Linked DNA regions of Homo sapiens. The protein of the gene in region 2 purifies or fractionates together with the protein of the main gene of each other region. This does not show direct contact. Each region holds a gene or a part of one and is shown on either strand. Other genes may lie near its edges. The genes, in order: RDH13, PON1 and SFXN5.

Region 1 (7,638 bases), on a different chromosome or scaffold from region 2:
TAGAACTACCTTTCCTATGTCCCCTGTGCTTCTCTCCAGTCCATACTCTACATCTCAGCCAGAAAAGAAGAAATTCTAAAACATGTATCTGCCCGTGACATGACCCTCCTTGGCTCAACACTCTTCAGCGGTACCCAGCGCCCTCTGAGTCAACGCCAAGCTTCCTACCATGGCATTGGAGCCGCGCTCTGGGTCCTTTTACTGATGGCTCCCGCCTCAGCCCTTCCACCCCCTCCCATACCCTGCATGCCAGCCCAGGCAGCCCTCCCTCCTCCCACAATATCTCTCATATGCATTCCTGTCCCATGCCTTCTGCTTAAGCTGTTCCCACAGCCCGGAGTCTCCTCCCTGGCTGAGGGAAATCTTGCCGGCTCACATGGCCGTGATCCCCATCATTTCCTGCAGAAAGCTTGCCCAGCTCTCCGACACGGGGACCTTCTGCCCCTCCTGAGCCCTGAGTCCCCTCCATCTTAACTGGGAGGTCACCTGTTTGCGTGGTGTCTGCTCAGCTTGCAGGCAAGGCCACCAACACCCTCCTTTCCTGTCTTTCCTTCCTACCATCCTCTCCTGTCCACCCTCTGCCTCTCCCTCCCTTCTTCTCTTCTTTCCTTCTAGTTACTGAGCCATGCATGTGTTGCATGCAGCAAGGATGAATAAAATAAAATAAACCTACAGCAATCATTCCAGTTACTATGGCCATATAACAAATTATTCTAAAACTCAGTGGCTTCAGACAAGGATCATATCTATTTTACTCAAAAACCTACCATCTGCACAGGCCTTGGTGGAGGCAGCTTATCTGTGTGCCCTTTGGTGATGGCTGGGGCTGTCAAGAAGCTGGGGCAGTGCTTGGGCTGCAAAGACTCAAATGGCTGGAGTCTGGGACCACTGGAGCTCCTTGCCCCCCTTTGCTTATCTCTACACAGCCACAGGGTCGCTAAACTTACCTTACACTGCTGAGGCCTCTTAAGATGTGTGTAGGGAAAGAGAGTTGGGGGGAGAGGGAGAGAGAGAACAGAGAGAGAGAGACACACACAAGAAGAGAGAGAGGAAGAAAGAAGGAGAGAGAGGAAGAGGAAGGGAGAGGAAGAGAGAGAGAAAGAGAAAGAGGGAGAGAGAGAGGAGAGAAAGAGACAAGAAGAGAGGAAGAAAAAAGAGGAAGAGAGGGATAGAGGAAGACAGAAGGAGGGAGAGGGAGAGAGGAAGAGAGAGGAAAGAGAAAGGAAGGGAAAGAGAGATGTGAGAGAGAGGGAGAGAGAGAGAGAAAAGAGGACAGAGGAAGAGAGAGAGGAAGAGAGAGGGAGAGAGAGGGAGAGAAGACAGAGAGGGAGAGAGGAAGAGAAAAGGAGACAGAGAGAGGAGAGATAGAGAAGAACGAGAAAGGAGAGACAGAATGTGAATGAGAATTGGGTGCCATAAACCCTCTGATGGGGAAAGCAAAGGGCATTGTGGGAGAATCCTCTCAGCACCTGGGACAGCACCCAGTGCTGATCAGGAACATGTTAACAACCAGGAAAATGGTAAAGGCGTGGACAGCCCACCTGGAGTCCAAACAGATGTTCTAACTCCCTTGGGTGTGTCTGGGAATCAGGTAGGAGATCCTCAGAGGAGGAATATGCATGCATTGTTCTCTTTATAATAACCATATTAACAGCCAGCAATGTTCTGGCACTTACTATGGATTAAGTCCTTGTTATGAATGACTTCATGCCATCCTTCCAAATTCAATGACAGGTAGCTGGGCGCAGTGGCTCACGCTTTGTAATCCCAGCACTTTGGGAGGCTGAGGCAGGTGGATCACCTGAAGCCTGGAGTTCAAAACCAGCCTGGCCAACATGGTGAAACCCCGTCTCTACTAAAAATACAAAAATCAGCCAGGTGTGGCGGCGAGCGCCTGTAATCCCAGCTACTCATGAGGCTGAGGCAGGAGAATCGCTTGAACCCAGGAGGCAGAGGTTGCAGTGAGCTGAGATTGCATCACTGCGCTCCAGCCTGGGCATCGGAGAGAGACTCTCAAACAGGAGCTGGCGAACTGTGGCGCACTGCTTATTTTTATAAATAAAGTTTTATGGGAACACAGCTGTGCTCACTTGTTTTCACATCATCTGTGGCTGCTTCCCAGCTCCTCTGGCAGAGGAGGTGCAACAGCCACTGTGTGGATCACAAAGCTGAAATTATTTACTATCTGGCTGTTTGTAGAAAAAGTTTGCTGATCTCTGTCCTGGAAGTCAATGATATTAGGATTTCAGTTTACAGAAAAGGAGAAAAAGACAGGGAAAAACAGTGTTGTTTTTTTTTCAAGGTTGAGAAAATGAACATCTGAACCAATTGCCCATGTTATTAAATGTAAACATTTATTATTATTATTTTTGAGATGGGGTCTTGCTCTGTCACCCAGCCTGGGGTGCAGTGGCACAATCACAGCTCATCATAGCCTTGACCTCCTGGGCTCAAGCAGACCTCCCACCTCAGCCTCCCAAGTAGCTGAGGGTGCAGATGCGTGCCACCAAACCTGCTAATTTTTGTATTTTTTGTAGAGATAAGGTTTTGCCGTGTTGTCCAGGCCGCTCTCAAACTCCTGGGCTCATACTATTCTCCACTTTGGCCTCCCAAAGTGCTGGGATTACAGGCATGAGCCACCATGCCCAGTCTAAAATTTTTCTTTATTTTTAGTTTGGTAAACTATGCATAAAGTAAAATGTACCATCTTAACCATTTTAAGTGTACAATTCAGTGATGTTAAGTATATTCACATTGTTGTGCAACCATCACCACCGTCCACCTTCAGGTCTTTTTTTTATTTTGCAAAACAAACTCTGTATCTATTAAAAAACAGCTTCCCGGCCGGGTGCGGTGGCTCATGCCTGTAATCCCAGCACTTTGGGTGGCCGAGGCAGGTGGATCACCTGAGGTCAGGAGTTTGAGACCAACCTGGCCAACATGGTGAAACCCCGTCTCTACTAAAAATACAAAAATTAGCCGGGTGTGGTGACACGTGCCTGTAGCCCCAGCTACTCGGGAGGCTGAGGCAGGAGAATCGCTTGAACCTAGGAGGCAGAGGTTGCAGTGAGCTGAGATCGCCCACTGCTCTCCAGCCTGGGTGACACAGTGAGACTGTCTCTCAAAAAACAAAACAAAACAAACAAACAAACAAAAACAAATCCTGTGACTTCCCAATCTCATCTCCAGCCCCCTGCAGCCACCACTCTGTTTTCTGTCTCTATGAATTTGACTCCTCCAAGTGCCTCTTATACAGCATTTGGCATTGTGTAACTGGTTTAATACGTTTGAGATGGTGAGAGCTTAAGGTCTACAGGCCTAAGGTTTTTTTTTTTTTGACAGAATTTCACTCTGTCGCCAGGCTGGAATGCAGTAGGGCAATCTCGGCTCACTGCAACCTCCACCTCCCGAGTTCAAGTGATGCTCCTGCTTCGGCCTCCTGAGTAGCTGGGACTACAGGTGAGTGCCACCACATCCAGCTAATTTTTGTATTTTTAGTAGAGACAGGGTTTCACCATGTTGGCCAGGCTGGTATCAATCTCCTGACCTCGTGATCCATCTGTCTCGGCCTCCCAAAGTGCTGGGATTACAGGCGTGAGCCACCGTGCCCGGCCATTGACTAAGGTCTTAAAATAGCTCTTCCTGCCTGTATAATCTCCATTATGGCAGGGCTCATATAAGAAGATGACAGTTCATCTGATGAGGAAGAAAACTTACTCCTAGTTAGATTGGGTTGAATTCTTCCCTGTTTCCAGCGGTGTCTGCTCCTGGCACCTCAGGCACAGTCAGGGGTAGGAGGTGGTGATCAGATACACTCGCTGTGAGCAGTGCAAGGGGAAGCAGGTGCCCAGAGGTGCATCCCGGTTTGGTGGGGGTGACAAACATGGACAGGTAAGTGCAGGAGTGTGTGCAATACTCAATCTAAGAAAGGTAGTTCAGGCAGAGTTCAGGGAAGATATCTCTGTGCAGGGCCAGACATGGGGATGAGATTCTGATAATTTGGGAATGAATCAGGCCCCCAGCCCCTCCTCCCTCAGACTCAGCAGTCCAGGCACCCGGCCCTCCTCCCTCGGACCCAGAAGTCCATGCTCCCAGCCCCTCCTCCCTTGGACCCAGGAGTCCAGGCCCCCAGCCCCTCCTCCCTCAGACCCAGGAGTCCAGGCCCCCAGCCGCCTTCTCCTGCAGGACCCCAGGAGCTTGGGTACCCACAGGCTACTAGATCCTTGTTTCTGTGCATGGAAATTCTCAAATTATCTCCAAAAGTCTATGAAGAAGGTAAACACACATTTCCAGATGAGGGAATAGGCTGATATAGTTGAAAGACACACAGAGGGTCACAGTCTGGAATTGACAGTGGTGGGATTCGAACCTATTTCACTCCAGAACTGCGTAGCGCCTTATACGCTGCGGCAAGTGTGACGTCATTCGAACAAACCATAGGCCCCGCCCCCGGACTAGCCACGCCCACAGGCTCCTGAAACCACCAATCCCAGCTGTGACAGCGCTCAGGACCGATGCTCATAGGTCCCGTCCCTAGGATCCCCGCCCCCTCCGCCCGCGCCCCGCCCCTCGCAGCCCAGTTCCGGACGCGGGCCCAGCCGCGCCTGCGCCTCCGCTCGCCTGTGGCTGCGTCGCGCGCTCTTCCTCGGAGCTACCCAGGCGGCTGGTGTGCAGCAAGCTCCGCGCCGACCCCTGACGCCTGACGCCTGTCCCCGGCCCGGCATGAGCCGCTACCTGCTGCCGCTGTCGGCGCTGGGCACGGTAGCAGGCGCCGCCGTGCTGCTCAAGTGAGTACATTCTAGCCCCGCGTGCGCGGTCAAGGCGGGCCCCCAGCGCAGGGGCCGGGAAGGCGGCGGAGACCCCCGCCCCTCGCACCCGGGTCCAGGCCCCGTAGCTCCCGACCCGCAGTGCCCGCCCGGAGTGGGGCAAACCTGCGCTCTGGCCGGCCAGGTCACCGGCCCAAGGTCACTCGGAGGGAAGGGCGAGCCTGGGCCCTTGTAAATGTTGCTTTCCTTCCAGACTTTTAAACTCTTTATTTTGTTGTTTTGTATTATTTATTTGTTCGTTTATTTTTAAAGGCAGAATCTGGCTCTGTCGCCCAGGCTGGAGTGCAGTGGCGCGATCTTGGCTCACTGCAGCCTTGACCTCCTGGGCTCAGGTGATCCTCCCACCTTGGCGTCCCCAGGAGCTGAGATCACACGTGCGCCACCACGCCCGGCTAATTTTTGTATTTTTCGCAGAGACGGGGTTTTGCCATGTTGGCCAGGCTGGTCTCAAACACCTGCCCTCAGGTGATCCGCCTGCCTCGGCCTCCAAAGTGCTGGGATTACAGACGTGAGCCACCTCGCCCAGCCTACTTAATTTAAACTTTCTTAAAAATTAGCCTCTGTGGCTGGTGGCCACTGTATTGCATGGTGCCCTTCTCTCCTGTGGGTGCAGTGCTGTTTACCTGCTCAGCCTCCTGTTGCTGGACACTATCTTGTTGCCAGCGTTAGCCTCTGTGGGACATGGGTGTGGTGGGCAGAGTCGTGACTCCGTAGAGGGGTCCACGTCCTAATCCTCGGAAGGTGTGACGACATTACCTCACGTGTCAGAGGTTCTCGCTGATGTGTTAAGTGAAGCATCTTTTTTTTTTTTGAGACAGAGTTTCGCTGTTGTTGCCCAGGCTGGAGTGCAATGGCACGACCTCGGCTCACCACAACCTCCACCTCCCGGGTTCAAGCGATTGTCCGGCCTCAGCCTCCTGAGTAGCTGGGATTACAGGCATGTGCCACCACGCCTGTCTAATTTTGTATTTTTAGTAGAGACGAGGTTTCTCCATGTTGGTCAGGCTGGTCTTGAGCTCCCGACCAAAGGGGATCTGGCCACCTTGGCCTCCCAAAGTGCTGGGGTTACAGGCGTGAGCCACCGTGCCCGGCCAAGTGAAGGATCTTATGATTATCATGTAGTCTTTTTTTTTTTTTGGAGACAGGGTCTCTCTGTCACCCAGGCTGGAGTGCAGTCATGCTGTCACAGCTCACTGCAGCCTCACCCTCCCTGGGCTCAGGTGGTCCTCCCACTTCAGCCTCCCGAGTAGCTGACTCTACAGGCGTGCACCACCAAGCCCTGCTAATTTTTGTATTTTTAGTAGAGATGGGGTGTCAGCATGTTGGCCATGGCTGGTCTCGAACTCCTGACCTCAAGTGATCCTCCTGTCTTGGCCTCCCAAAGTGCTGGGATTACAGGTGTGAGGCACTGTGCCGGTCCTGCCTTGTAGTCTTATAGGGTCCTTATAAGAGGGAGCAGGAGGCTCAGTCAGAGGGGAGATGGAAGATAGAAGGAGAGGTTGTTGGGTGTGGTGGCTCACGCCTGTAATCGCAGCACTTTGGGAGGCCAAGGCAGGCGGATCACAAGGTCAGGAGTTCGAGACCAGCCTGACCAACGTGGTAAAACTCTGTCTCTACTAAAAATACAAAAGAAATTAGCCAGGTGTGGTGGCATGTGCCTGTAATCCCAGCCACTCAGGAGGCTAAGGCAGGAGAATCGCTTGAACCTGTGAGGCGAAGGTTACAGTGAGCTGAGATTGAGCCACTGCACTCCAGCCTGGGCGACAGAGCGAGACTCTGTCTCAAAAATAAATAAGTAAATAAATAAATAAATAAAGGAGAGGTTCCAGTGAGGATGCAGGTTGAAGATGGAGGCGGGGCCAAGAGTGGAGGAATGTGGCGGTCTGTAGGAGCTGGAAGTGGATTCTTCCCTAGAGCCTCCAGAAGGAACCTGACTCTACCAATACCTTGATTTATTCCAGTGAGACATGTTTTGGACTCTTGACCTGCCGAACTGGAGGAGGATGCACTTATGTGGTTTTAAGCCACTAAGTCTGTGGTAATGCGTACAGCAGCCTTGGGAATCTCGTGCAGCGGGCATTTTAAATTTAAATTTAAATTTTTTTGAGACAGAGTCTCGCTCTGTTGCCCAGGCTGGCACCATTTCGACTCACTGCAACCTCCGCCTTCCAGGTTCAAGCAATTCTCGTGCCTCAGCCCCCTGAGTAGCTGAGATTACAGGTGTGCACCACCACGCCTGTGAAGGGGTGGCCTGCCCCTCCACACCTGTGGGTATTTCTAGTTGGGTGGGACGAGAGACTGAGAAAAGAAATAAGACACAAAGTATAGAGAAACAACAGTGGGCCCAGGGGACCGGCGCTCAGCATACCAAGGACCTGCACCGGCACCGGCCTCTGAGTTCCCTCAGTTTTTACTGATTATTATCTTCATTATTTCAGCAAAAAGGAATGTAGTAGGAGAGCAGGGTGATAATGAGGTCAGCAAAAACCATGTGAGCAAAAGAATCTATGACATAATTAAGTTCAAGGGAAGGTACTATGCCTGGACGTGCACGTAGGCCAGATTGATGTTTCTCTCCACCCAAACATCTCAGCGGAGTAAAGAATAACAAGGCAGCATTGCTGTAAACATGTCTCGCCTCCCGCCATAGGGCGGCTTTTCTCCTGTCTCAGAATTGAACAAATGTACAATCAGGTTTTATACCGAGACATTCAGTTCCCAGGGTCAGGCAGGAGACAGTGGCCTTCCTCTCTCTCAACTGCAAGAGGCTTTCCTCTTTTACCAATCCACCTCAGCACAGACCCTTTACGGG
Region 2 (7,107 bases):
TTCCTTCATCAAGAAAGTATTACTGTGAAAAACAAGTCAGTTTAACTAAGCAGTGTGCTTAGTGATGTATTTGATTTATAATGTTATCTCATGGTGAGCTATAACAAACAATTTGCAAACCAACATTGGTCTGGAGACTGCATTTTGGGTAGCATTGGTATATACATGAAATATCTATATCCATCCACATATATGCCCTTTCTCATCTTGTGTCATCATCAAGGATTTTAGAGTCCGTAACATATGCTTAGAGAAAGCAACAGGGGCCAGGTGTGGTGGTTCATGCCTGTAATCCTAGCACTTCGGGAGGCCAAGGTGGGTGGATCACCTGAGGTCATAGACCAGCCTGGCCATCATGGCGAAACCCCATCTCTACTAAAAATACAAAAATTAGCCAGGCGTGGTGGCGCACTCCTGTAATCCCAGCTACCAGGGAGGCCAGGCAGGAGAATTGCTTGAACCTGGGAGGTGGAGGTTGCAGTGAGCTGAGATTGCACCACTGCACTCCAGCGTGGGTGACAGAGCAAGACTCTGTTTTTTTTTAAAAAAAAAAAAAAGAAAGAAAGAAAGAAAAGAAAAAGCAAGCAAGCAAGCAAGTGAGAGCAACAGGGACAGGGACAGCTTTTAATTATTCATATCATAGACCAGTTTTCAAAAAATAGAAGATAATTGAGCAGTAATTTCTTTTTTTTGTTGGGGGGATGCACAGTGCTTAGACTAACCCCAGATCTTTGTGGGGTATGACTAAAGCCACAGGGTCAGGACCACACTCAGGGCAGAAGAGGAGGAAGACTTCTCTTGATCCAAGCCAAGCAGCTTTTCTTCTCTCATATTTTCTCTGGATTAAAACAAGGGGCTGTTGTCCAAGGGCTTTCCTGCAACTTTCCCGAGAGAGAACTCACTAGCCCCTGAAATGCAGAACCTGGGCCTTGACACTAAATTGTCAAACCAAAAGAGAAACGCTGTAATGCATTTTACTCCCAGATACTAAAAGTTAGTGTTAGGGCTAAGTTCCTCCCATACTGATAAGGACAACTATGTCCCCTCCTTCAGAAACAACTTTTCAGAGATTAAACCCCTCTGTCACTGTAAACTCACTGAGTTCTTTCAGAATTTGGTGTGTTTGAGGTGGGTTCCATTTTCCATTCCTTAAGCAAAGTTCTTCCCTATGAATAGGTATTACAACTTCATCTTAATCTCTCAAGTTGTGTTACTTCTAGTACTTTGATGTAGCTCTTTCTTCTTTGAAGGTATGTCTATATAGCTGAGTTGCTGGCTCATAAGATTCATGTGTATGAAAAGCATGCTAATTGGACTTTAACTCCATTGAAGGTAAGACGTATTAACACTGTAAGTCTGCAGAGTGATAATTAGATTCTAATTGATTTGTGAAATTAAATGTGAAGAAAAAAGGACTGCTTAATTGGGGTGGGTGAGAACCAATTTTTCACTCCTTTATTAAGAGTCATTAGCTTGGTTATGTGTTTGTTGTTCATTTTTACTCAACTGCAGAGTGGCAAACAGCAAACCCCACCTCTTACCCGTGAACCTTGCATTCTTTCTGCTCTAGCAAATTTTAAGCTTGGCATTGTGTTCCCAGATCCTCCTTCCATCCCTCCCTTCCTGCCTTTCTTCTGATCTCCCTCTCCTCCACCTTCCTTCCCTCTCCTCCCTTTTCTTTCTCTTTTTTCCTCTATGTTGATGGAACAGCCAAGAAATAGCCTCAAATTGTACTTTATGCAGGGCTGCTCTCCACAATGTTTATGAAGTCCACGTGCTCACGATGGCTGCTAGGTGACCTGGCTGCCCCTCACCTCTCTGCCTTTACCTCCAACCATTGTGTCCCTGCCCCACGTCTCCTGCCACTGTCTCAGAACGGGGCACCATTCCCTCTGCTAGGAGGAGAAACCTTCCTCCAGATCTCCATGACCCCCTCCTTCATCTCCTTTCATTTTTACTAAAACGTCACCTCGATCTTCAAAACCTGGAACTGCTCCCTCCCGCTACGTATTTTCCCTCGCCTTTCCTGCTTTATTTTTCCATTCAGCACGTATTGCTAACATACTATATATTTTATTCATACCCTTTATTACCTGATTCCCCAACTAGGGTGTAAGCTCCACAAGGACAGGCTGTTTTTCTATTTGCTTCTGGTACAATTCACATTGACTAGTTGGCACTTAACAAATACTTGTTAAATTACTGCGGTGGGGCTGGGCATGCTTCAGGGATTCACCTGCTGCCCCCACCAATTCTGGTCATCTGAAGGTTGGAGTCAAAATGGGTGAAAACACAAAGGAGAGGAAAAAGAGACCAAGAGCAAACTAGAGCCCTAAGAAAGCAGCCCTCTACCTCCGAAAAACAGCAAGACGTTGCTTTCCTGCCATAAACGCCCACTGCAGGAAGCACTGTCAGCGCCAATTGTATGACTGTTCCTGTCAGCACATCTGAGAGACTGTCATGAGGGGCCTCACTCAGAGAAAATTACCTTAAAGCAACATCAAATGTAACATCGTGTTTGACATTAAAAATCACTGGCAGGGCTAGTTTGGTATTAGCTCAAGTAAAATGGAATTTCACACGCTCATACTGGCTAAGGGAATAAAAAACAAGCTGCGGTTTTAACAACAGGTATTTCTGTAAAACAAAAGTTAAAGAATTTTATGAGAATAGAACCCAATGTAACAGACATTCACCACAGAATGTCAAGGCTCTGCTCTCACCAGGGTGAGACTGAGGGCAAGGCCAGTTTCAGCAACAGACCAGGCCTGTCTCCCATCATGAAAACCCCAAAAAGGTTCTCCATCAATTGTCACATTATTCTTTCTTTTGAAAGACCGTATTAATTAATATCAGTTAATTAATGCCCGAGAGTGCCAAGTAATTTGATAAACTAGCTGAGGCTATTCTTAAATTTGTGATGAGGTGTGGATGGGTTTATGTCCAATTGGATATTGTTCAGCCTTAAAAAGGAATGAAGTTCTTGGCCGGGTGCGGTGGCTCACACCTGTAATCCCAGCACTGTGGGAGGCTGAGGTGGGTGGATCACGAGGTCAAGAGTTCAAGACCAGCCTGGCCAATATGGTGAAACCCCGTCTCTACTAAAGGTACAAAAAATTAGCCAGACATGGTGGCACATGCCTATAATCCCAGCTACCTGGGAGACTGAGGCAGGAGAATCACTTGAACCTGGGAGGCGGAGGTTGCAGTGAGCTGAGATCACACCATTGTACTCCAGTCTGGGCAACAAGAGCAAAACGCCATCTAAAAAAAAAAAAAAAAAAAAAAAGGAATGAAGTTCTGATACCTGCTACAACATGGATAAGCCTTGAAAAACATGATGCTAAATGACATAAGCCAGCAACAAAAGGATAAATATTGTACGATTTACTAATAGGAAGTACCTAGAACAGGCAAATTCATGGAGACAGAAAATAGAATAGAATGGTGATTGCTAGGAACTTGGGGGAGAGAAGAATAGGGAGCTATTGTTTAATGGGTACAGGATTTCTATTTGGGGCTGATTAAAAGTTCTGGAGAGGGATGGTGATGATGGTTGCACAACATTGTGAATATACTTAATGCCACTGAGTTTTACACTTAAAAATGGTTAAAATGTCAAATTTTTATATATTTTACCACGATAGAAATAATTCTCTCCTCTCTCCAAAAAAAGATTCCAGGACTTAGTCAATGAATTAGTCACACTTCAATGAACCTCAATGCGCAAAAACCTGGAATATTTGTTAACAGAGAATACTCTGTTTTTCCCAAAGAGAATAATTTATTATGTTTTCTTGACCAAGGAATGCGAATTTTTCGAGTTGCCTTTGTGGGAGTGTGAGATGTGATACGCAGGGGTCTTGCATGAGTTAGCATGGAGAGGAATTATTTATTTGCAAGGCAAAGAGTTCATTGCTGGACTCAGAACAGGCTCCCTGCTAGACTGTCAGCACTTCCATGGCATGAGCTGTGTCTGCTGGGTACCTGGTGCTCTCCAGGTGTTGCGTTCCTTGCAGAGCTCATGTAGGAGCTCAGTAATTGTGTCTTGAATGAATGGGACCCCAGGTTTCTGTGTCCTTCTCCCACTCCCACTCTCATCTCAGGTTTCATCTGCCGTGGAATTCACCAATTGGCTGTACTGCTTCCAAAGATAAGAGCAAAGCCCTGAAACAAACATTTTCCTCATTCAAAGACATTATGGTATCAGAGTGGTGTGCTGACACTGGGATGGACAGGGGTTTAGGGATGGAGAAAGCAAGCATGGAGCCGCCTGTCTTGCCTGTCTCTGGGGTAAGAAAGACTGATGGCTCTGCATGGTGGCGAGACTGAGGCTCTGCCATGATGCTTGAGCCCTCTAATCCCTCCTTGGGCATGTGAGGAACAGCTCTCATTTTGAGTAGGAGGCACAGGGAAACGTTGGTTTTCTGCAGCTGTCTGCTTATGCCCTGGCTTTTTCAATGAGTCATGACCAGTTATTTACAGGTTCTCTGGGCACTGAGGTATGCTGGCCTCTGAGGTACATGGTAGATATTATTTCTCCAACTGAGAATTAGAGGTAAACAAATAGATGGGATTTCTCCCCAGTAGAAGGCAGCCAAGATGATGAATGGTGGAATTAAGAATCATTGGTATTATTTATGATCCTTGTACAAAGCCTCGACAGCAATCTGTGCAGTCATCAAATGCTTGCAACTTATATTTAGAGAATAAACAGCAGAAGAACGGGGAGTTGAACAACATCAGGAAACTAAAGAACAAACTTTTCCTCAACTACAAGGCAAAAATGAGACCCTGGGTGATCATTTCTTCTCTGGCTGCACAGCCTATGATTAGCCATTAAAGAGTCCACATTTCATTGATATTCTTCTGAGAAAGAATCTACATTTCCTGGTTGTTTTCTGAATGCTTATAAAAATATCATTACCACATGCCATTTTAGAAGGAGATGTTTTATGATGCACCGAAAACTTCTTTTTTTTTTCAGTTTTAGGTTCATGCACAGATGTTGGTACAAATGATTTTGTCTAACTTTTAACAGTCTTTCTTGGCTTTCTGTATCTTCACCCTACCCAATTCTGCCCTGGAAACTGACAAAATACTAGCATAGATGAAAGGTCAGAGAAATTTTGTGAGTCTTATTGAAATGGGGCAGAATTGTATCCTTGGAAGCAGCAGCGTGGTGACCAAGGACAAGAGGCAACTTTTCTCTGATATATTTTGCTCCATCACAATTGTGTTTTACTTTATGTCTTGTTCTTTTCTTGTTTTTAATCTTTTAAGTCCCTTGACTTTAATACCCTCGTGGATAACATATCTGTGGATCCTGAGACAGGAGACCTTTGGGTTGGATGCCATCCCAATGGCATGAAAATCTTCTTCTATGACTCAGAGAATCCTCCTGCATCAGAGGTAAGTTTTAAAAATGAACCAGATAAGTGACTTTATTCCCAGCTACTGTTTTTTCAGTTGACAACATAATTCTCAATTCTTGGTTTTTTTTTTTTTTTTTTTTTTTTTGTGACAGAGTATCGCTCTGTCGCCCAGGCTGGAGTGCAGTGGCGCAATCTTGGCTCACTGCAAGCTCCGCCTCCCGGGTTCACACCATTCTCCTGCCTCAGCCTCCCAAGTAGTTGGGACCACAGGCGCATGCCACCATGCCTGGCTAATTTTTTGTATTTTTTTTTTTTTTTAGTAGAGACAGGGTTTCATCCTGTTGGCCAGGATGGTCTTGATCTGCTGACCTTGTGATCCACCCGCCTCGGCCTCCCAAAGTGCCGGGATTACAGGCGTGAGCCACCGTGCCCGGCCAATTCTCAATTCTATGTGCAAATAAAAGGGGGGACATGGATAGATGATCCAAATGATCAGAAATGAAGGCTTTTGGAGGTGCTTTAGTCAGAGTCTAGGCAAGAAACACATGGCACACTTAAATTGGATAATTTGAGGGGAGTTTAATCAACGGACTATACACAAAATGTGTGGACACAGTGTAGGGTAATCAACAGAGTTATAATGCAGTACCCCAGGGCTAGCAAGGGAGGGAGGAAATGAATACCAGAAGCCAGAACAGGTAGACGGTGGTGGGTGGAGAGGGTTGCCTGACAGGAACTTGGCCTCTGGTTAAGGGATCCTCAAAGAACATAATGATGCCATACTGCTATGGTTTAATCATTCATTACCTGCCTTCCTATTCAACTCCCCCTTCCTGTGTGGCGGTATACGCACAGGTCCATGCAATGGACCAGTCCTGGAGCACACTGGCCAGCCTCTCTAGATCTTCCTGCAGGTGGCAAGATAAATAGCTGGAATTATTCTGGCTTAGAAGATCTCATCTTCCACCTTAGTTACAGTACTCAAAGGTCCCATTTTTTGTCCACGGTCTTTATTCAGTGAACTATTTTGGGTACAAGTAAGAATTTGCAACCTACTTCAATATAGGTATTTGCACATTTACTGAGTTTTCAGTATCTACTAAGGATACTTATTACTTACATCATATATATGATATCATCTTGACATATTTGTCTACTGCTGTGTATTGTTAAAGCTCAGTTTTAAGAGTCCATTTCACCTGCCCAACAGGAAAAAAAAAAGTGTTAAAGCCCGTATCTCTTGGGTTAAAAAAAAAAGAAACAAATGTGTATTTCCATTTACATTATGGCTCTCTTACCTTTTATCTCTAGGTTTGCAGGACAATTGTGATCATGTTTAATGGCAACCCTTTGTGCCTTTTGCTAGTTTTTAGCTATTAGGGTTGCTGAATGGTATGTTTAATAGAATTGAAGAAATGTATGCTGTGGAGTGTTCAGTGCTCAGAACTGAGCAGAATGTTAGATTCTAATTTGTTCTTGCTTGTTAGCTCATTTAGTAACCTTGGGTCATTTGCTATAGCATGGACTTGGTTTGTTGTTCTGGAGAAAATACTTCATTTCTAATGATTGATCTGCAAAGGAGTAGCAAAAAGTAGTAACAATTCCTTATCCAATGCACTGCCCCTAGATGAGTGATTTAGTTTTATTAACAAGAAGCTTAGCTAAGCCAAGGTGTACCATCAACTATTTCCCTGTAACTACTACATGTTAATGCTATGGCAACTTCCTAAGA
Region 3 (7,107 bases), on a different chromosome or scaffold from region 2:
GCAGAAGTGGGGGCTGTGCCTGTCTTTACTCCCTGTTGACTCTCCAAGGCTCAGCACAGTGCCTGGCAGTTAAGAGGTGCTTAATGAAGATTTGTTATATACATGAATATCCTGGAGACAATTCAGTAGGGCTTTGCGGACTTGAATTAAATTGACTTGTAAGGTTGTGACTGGGGAGGTGGACCAACTTTTCTCCAAATTGTCCCTTAGGGATCTTACAAAATTGCAAGTGGTGTCATGTTTGACAGTGTAAGGTTCATCAGTGCTGAGACATCCCAGAGTTGGGGTGTCTCTAAGGAGGTGAGTCTAAAGACACAAAGGTTGGCTACATATGTACTGGGTTGATGAGCTCCTTTAGGGCCCAGCCCACATCTCTGTGTCCTGCCCTGGCATGTAATAGTTGTGTAATATATATGCTCATAGTACCTTGTGCTGGCCTGACAGAAGCCTGCTTCAAGGTGGTTGATAATCCAGGGTTCATTCCCAGCACCCATGCCAGGGACATGACCCTTATTCCCCAATTAATCTCACCGCTTTCTGCAGGATTTGTTACCAAGGTCTTTCCTTATTCCCTGGAGTCGCTCTAGAACTCCTCTTTATTCCCTCAAGTGTCTCCCTGTGCAAGAGGACGGGCAGAAAGAGGGTGGAGGGTGTGGAGGGTCAGAGTGTGAAGAAAGGGTGATGAGTGTTGGTGGTCTGTGACCATCTTTCTCCCCATAAGATGGTGACGATAGCCAAGCATCATTCCAGCCTTTTTGTGTATTGACTTACTGAATTTTCACAACAACCCTGTGAAGCAGGTGCAATGATCTCCAATTTATGGGTAAGAAAACTACAGCACACAAACAGATTAAGTAAATTCCCAGGCAGTCTGTCTCCAGAGTTCATGTTTGTTTGTTGGTTTGTTGTCAACTTTTTATTATGGAAGTTTACAAACATACTAATCTGGAGACAGTTGTCAGTAAACCCCTATGCACCCATCATCCAGCTTCAACAGTTGCCAACTTAAAGCCGGCCTTGTTTCATCTATGCACCCACCCCCCACAACCCAATCAATGAATTACTCTGAAGCAAAGGCCAAACATCCCATCATTTCATTGAACCCACTAGTAGGTATCTCTAAAAAATAAGGACTCTTTGGTTAGCTTTTTAAAAATTTTTTTATTTTGGAATAATTTTAGAGAAGTCAAAAGACAACAAACAATTCCTGCCTAGCCCTCACCCATTGTCCTCTGTTATCATCTTGCATTGCCACAGTACATTTTTCAAAACTAAGAAACTAACATTGGTACATTATCGTTAACTACACTCCAGACTTCATTGAATTTTACTACTTTTTTTTACACTAATGTCTCCTTTCTGTCCCAGGATCCCATCCAGGAACATGTTACATTTAGTCATCATGTCTCTTTAGCCTCCTCTGGTCTGCGGCAGTCATAGTACCTGGGATAGTTTCTCAGACTTTGCTTGTTTTTGATGACCTTGACAATTTTGGAAGATATTTTATAGAGTGTCCCTCAACTTGGGTTGCCTAATGTCTTTCTTTTGGGTTTTGAGGTAAGAATATCACAGAGGTGAAATGCTCTCTTTATCACATGATATTGGAGGGTTTTTTGATTTGTTTAACATAACCATGTCCTTAACACACCTAAAATCATTATTTGTTTTTTCTTTTTTTTTAGAGACAGGGTTTCTGTCTGTCACCCACAATAGAGTACAGTGGAACAGTAATTAATGGCTCACTGCAGCCTTGAGCGCCTGGGCTCAAGCAATCCTCTGGCCTCTACCTCCAGAGTAGCTGGAACTACAGGGGTGTGCCACCATGCGTGGCTATATGTATTTTTTGTTTGTTTGTTTTCTTTCTGTTTTTTCTTTTCTTTTCTTTTTTTTTGTAGAGACAGGTGTCTTGCTATTTTGCTGAGGCTGGTATCAAACCCCTGGCCTCTAATGATTGTTCTGCCTGGCCCTCCCAAAGTGCTGGGATTTACAGGCATGAGCCACCATGCCTGGCCCATTAATTCTTAATATCATCAAGTAACCAGTCGCTATTCATATTTCCCTGACCATCACTTAATTTATTTGTAGTTGATTTGTTTGAATCAGGATCCCATAAGTCCCACATATTATTACCTTTGGGTATTTCTCTTTTGTATCTTTTATTTTTTTTTTTTGGAGACAGAGTCTCTCTCTGTCGCCCAGGCTGGAGTGCAGTGGCATGATGTCAGCTCACTGCAACCTCCGCCTCCCGGGTTCAAGTGATTCTCCTGCCTTAGCCTCCTGAGTAGCTGGGATTACGGGCGCATGCCACCATGCCTTGCTAATTTTTGTATTTTTAGTAGAGATGGGGTTTCACCATGTTGGCCAGGCTGGTCTCAAACTCCTGACCTCAGGTGATCCACCCGCCTCGGCCTCCCAAAGTGCTGGGGTTACAGGCGTGAGCTACCACACCCGGCCTCTTTTGTATCTTTTAATCTGTTAGTTCTGTCTTCCTTTTTTCCCTTCCTATTGAAGAAGCAGTTGTTCGTCCCTGTAGAATTCCCCACCTTCTCAATGTTGCTGATGGCATCTCTGTGGTAGTGGTTAGCATGTTCCTTTATCCCTTGTTTCTCCTGTAAACTTAAAGTCTATGCATTTAACCACTACTCCAGCTGCCTAGTGAAAGGGAGGAGATGACAGCACAGCACCCAGGGAACCTCTGAGACCTGCTTTGCTTCCTTTCCTCTTCCTTTTCTGGTCATTTCCTCTCCTGAACTCACTGTTTTTCCTTCCGGCCCAGACACCATGTTTGCCATGTTGGGGCCCCAGGACAGGAAACAAACACACATACTTTCTCCCATTTGTGTTTCAGTCCATCTGTAAATAAATTGTTGTCCAGGACCAGGCGCGGTGGCTCATGCTTGTAATCCCAGCACTTTGGGAGGCTAAGGCGGGCAGATCACTTGATGACAGGAGTTCGAGATCAGCCTGGCCAACATGGTGAAACCTGTCTCTACTAAAAAATACAAAAAATAGCCCTTCAAGATTCCCCCACATGGCCAGGCACAGTGACTCATGCCTGTAATCCCAGCACTCTGGGAGGCCAAGGCGGGCAGATCACTTGAGGTCAGGAGTTCAAGACCAGCCTGGCCAACATGGCAAAACCCTGTCTCTACAAAATACAAAAATTATGTGAGCATGGTGGCAGGCGCCTATAATCCCAGCTACTCAGGACTGAAGCAGGAGAATTGCTTGAACCCGGGAGGCAGAGGTTGCAGTGAGCCGAGATTGCACCATTGCACTCCAGCCTGGGCAACAAGAGCGAAACTCTATCTCAAAAAAAAAAATTGTTGTCCAGGTGCAGTTGGCTCATGCCTGTAATCCCAGCACTTCGAGAGGCCAAGGCAGGAGGATTGCTTGAGGCCAGGAGCTTGAGACCAGCCTGGACAACATAGTGAGACCCCATGTCTACAAAAAATTGAAAAACTAGCTCGGCGTGGTAGCATGCACCTGTAGTCCCAGCTACTTGGGAGGCTGGGGCAGGAGGATCCCTTGAGTCCAGAAGTCTGAGGCTGCAGTGAGCTATGATCACACAACTGCACTCCAGCTGGGCAACAGAGTGAGACCCTGTCTCAGAAAGAAGGGAAGAAGTTTTTTAACAACTTCTGGCGAGGTGTGGTGGCTCATGCTTGTAATGCCAGCACTTTGAGAGGCCAAGGTGGGCAGATTGCTTGATCCCAGAAGTTTGAGACCAGTCCAGGCAACATGGCGAAACCCCGTCTCTACAAAAAATATAAAAATTATCCAGGTGTGGTGACACATGCTTGTAGTCCCAGCCACTCTAGAGGGTGAGGTGGGAGAATCACCCGAGTCCAGGAAGTGGAGGTTGTAGTGAGCTATGATCGTGCCACTGCACTCCAGCCTGGGTGACAAAGTGAGACTGTGTCTCAAAAATAAAACAAAAATTCCTTGCTCCTTTGGAAGTCTCACTTATCTGCTGAGATGACTGGGGGTATGAGTGTGCTGGGGACCAAGGCCTAGTGGGGCAGAGCAGGCTGGTTGCACAGGGCTCCCTCTGGGGTATGGAGAGCTTGCTGGGCAGACAAATGCTTTCTTCACTTCAAGGTTGGGAGATTTGTGTGGGCTGAGAGTTGGGAGGCAGGGGGGATATGTCTCATAGTTTGCTTGAAATAAAGTTCTAAAATCACAGTACCTTGCAGGTGGTTATATATTTTAATCATTTACTTCCTATAGGCGAGACAGTGAGTTTTTTCTAGTGCTGCTCCTGGGCTGGTTTGTGCAGTGGAGAGGGGTCATAATTTCCAAGAGTCACACTGGGCAGGTTTTAAAATAGACACTGATGCCTGGAGGCCACACCCAGAGCAATAGAATCAGAATCCCTGGGTGTATGGCCTGGTTTTTGAAGTACCCAGGTGGTTCAGGGTGCAGCTGATTCAGGACTACTGGGCTGGCCCAGCCTTTCTGCTTTGGGCTGTAGGTTCAGCGAGTATATTATTCCTAATCGAAGAGCAGTAATTTGGAGGTCTGGTGTGTGTAGTTGCGGGGCGGTGTCAGCTTCTTCTGGGATCTTTGCCCTCTGCTGCTGCTCCCAAGGCCTGCTCTTCCCTGGGGGGCTTGCAGATGGGAGAGAGCTGGCTGGTGGAGGTGGGAAGGCAGCTGCTGCTGTAGGCCCTGGCTCCTGCTGAGAATTAGCTGACTCACCTTTCTTATGAAGGGAAAGAGAAGGAATCACTTGGCTGACTCATTCTTCCAGTAAAGAAAAAGGGGAGGAAAAACATCCACCGATTGTGCGATTGGGTAAAGATGGGAGCTGAATTTGGGAGGGAGGCTATACATTTTGAACTATTGAGAAAATAAAAATGAACTGAGACTGAGAAAGTATAACCTTCCTTGCCATTCATCAGACAGGGAGGACAGACACAGAGCCAGCTGCAAAGAAAGAATGTTTCTCACGAGGACCCACAGGATCTATAAAGTATCGAACAACCTTCTTCCAGTAACCACCTCTTTCATACTCATGTCTCACTCTATAAGGTCCTAGACTGCCAGGAACTTTGCTGTTTAAGTCATATCATTAGGAATGAACCATCTACCTCTTGATTGGCAGGTCTAAGTCACTTTGCCTCGGAGAATCAACCCATAGCTGCAAATAAGGGGTTTCTGGTCACAACGTTTCTCATTAATCTTAACTTTATAGTTTTTAAGGAAACAAGACCCTGAGTGGTTGGTCCAGACCTATGATGACTCCTTTTCACACAGTCTTGCTTTGCTTGGAGCCTATTGAAGCACTGCTTCATTTACATTTTACTCTATCTTCCTTAAATTATATACCAAATATTTTTCTTTGTTTGGCAAGGCACCCCATAATTCCTCTGCTGTGGTGCTTTTCTTTGTTGAGTGAGTCAGTAAATCTGACTTGGTCAGACTATAGGTTTGTCTCTATAGTGGGTGGGGTGGGGGTCTTAGGGCAATCTGTACCTGACATTTCCAATTCAGAGTCTCTTTCTTGAATCTCAGTCCAAATGTTTGCTGAAAAATTATATCTGGAAGTCCCTTTAAATATCTCAGACTGATATGACCAATACAGAGTTTTTATCTTCTTTCCACTTAATCAGTATGCTTCTTCCTGTCCCTATTCTGGTTAACAAACATTCATGTCTCACTAGAAAGTGAGGCATCATCTGTGGCTGCTCTTCCTCATTTCCCCACAGTCGGTCAGCCTTGCTACCTCCAGGACCTAGCACAGTGCTGGGCACACAGTAGATCCTCGGTAGTGGGTTGAATGATGAATGAATGAAGAGACCACAGGAGTCTGGTGCAGCTTCTGATCCTAAGCTTTATGCTTTCATCCTCTTGCATATACCCTCCTCTGCTAGGTAAACTCATCCATCCCTTGGTCCCAGCTCCTCTGGGACACCTCCTTGACTTAAACTAGGAAGACATAGGAAGAACTCTGTGTGTCCCCAGTATACTTCGCGATGCTTCATTTAAACTCTGATCAGTGTTTTGTAGTTACTTGTTTATAGTTATTAGTCTGTTTTGATGGGCTGTGAGCTCTTTGAGGGCTTGTTCATTTGGTGTCTGTCCCCTGAGCCTAGCTCATTAGGAGTTTGTAGGTGTCTGTGGAGCAAAATGCCTTATCTGGGAGTCTCCCCCAGTAGCTATGGTCGAAAGTGACACAAGAAGGCTGGCAGGGCTGGGACAGGATGAAGACCGTGCCAGACCATAGGACAAGTCAAAGGCTGAAGTTTCTGCTGGACCATCTTCAAGAAGTTGCTTCACTCAGGCCATTCTACTTCCAGGTTCTCTCCTCTTCCCCTGCTCATCCTCTTTCCTCCTTGGACCACTAGCTGCCATACTGTTACCCTTTCCTAATCCTGCCCTCCCTTCAAAGCCCAGCCCAGCTCTACCCCACCCAGAAGCCTTGAGGCCATTGGCTGCTCATCAGCCCACTCATGGATTCCTGTGGCAGAAGACCCTTCCTTCCAGATATGTAAGGAGACTTCGAGCCAGGGAGGATAAGGAAGGAACATTCAATAGCCCATGTCCTTCAGGAGCTCTTAATCAAGTATAATACTTAAAATATCAGTTCATGTTTTACTTTATTTTATTTTTGGAGACAGGCTCTCACTCTGTCACCCAGGCTGGAGTGCAGTGGCATGATCATAGCTCACTGCAGCCTCGAACTCCTGGGCTGAAGTGGTCCTCCTACCTCAGCCTCCTAAGTAGCTGGGACTACAGGTGTATACCACCATGCCTGGCTAATTTTTAAAATTTTTTGTAGAGATGGGGTTTCACTGTGTTGCCCAGGCTGATCTCAAACTCCTGGGCTCAAGTGATCCTATCACTTCAGCCTCCCAAGTAGCTGGGATTATAGGAGCAAGCCACTGTGACTGGCTTGCATTTTACTCTAAATATGTATTTTTAAATGTAATATCATTTCTGTATATTAGGTATAATATTGATTTTTTTAATTTCAAAAGCAATTTAAAGATCTGGAAATATAAATCATACATAAGCCTATTACCCAGAGGCAATCTCTATTAGCATTTTAGTATATTTTCATCTAGCTTTTTTGAAAATATAATTTTTACCTTTTTATTTTGAAAC

The links.
Region 1: the proteins of PON1 (region 2) and RDH13 purify together in Homo sapiens (affinity purification with mass spectrometry; 2 studies listed by BioGRID and IntAct, with this or other methods). This does not show direct contact.
Region 3: the proteins of PON1 (region 2) and SFXN5 purify together in Homo sapiens (affinity purification with mass spectrometry; 2 studies listed by BioGRID and IntAct, with this or other methods). This does not show direct contact.

What each region holds. Positions count from the first base shown.
Region 1 is NC_000019.10:55,060,117-55,067,754, reverse strand, and holds the start of RDH13 (retinol dehydrogenase 13 isoform 1 precursor), read left to right. Parts: upstream 1-4,606; 5' UTR 4,607-4,722; coding exon 4,723-4,787; intron 4,788-7,638. UniProt on the Homo sapiens protein: Retinol dehydrogenase with a clear preference for NADP. Oxidizes all-trans-retinol, but seems to reduce all-trans-retinal with much higher efficiency. Has no activity toward steroids.
Region 2 is NC_000007.14:95,300,510-95,307,616, reverse strand, and holds part of PON1 (serum paraoxonase/arylesterase 1), read left to right. Parts: intron 1-1,250; coding exon 1,251-1,332; intron 1,333-5,283; coding exon 5,284-5,412; intron 5,413-7,107. UniProt on the Homo sapiens protein: Hydrolyzes the toxic metabolites of a variety of organophosphorus insecticides. Capable of hydrolyzing a broad spectrum of organophosphate substrates and lactones, and a number of aromatic carboxylic acid esters.
Region 3 is NC_000002.12:73,061,623-73,068,729, reverse strand, and holds part of SFXN5 (sideroflexin-5), read left to right. Parts: intron 1-7,107. UniProt on the Homo sapiens protein: Mitochondrial amino-acid transporter. Transports citrate. Does not act as a serine transporter: not able to mediate transport of serine into mitochondria.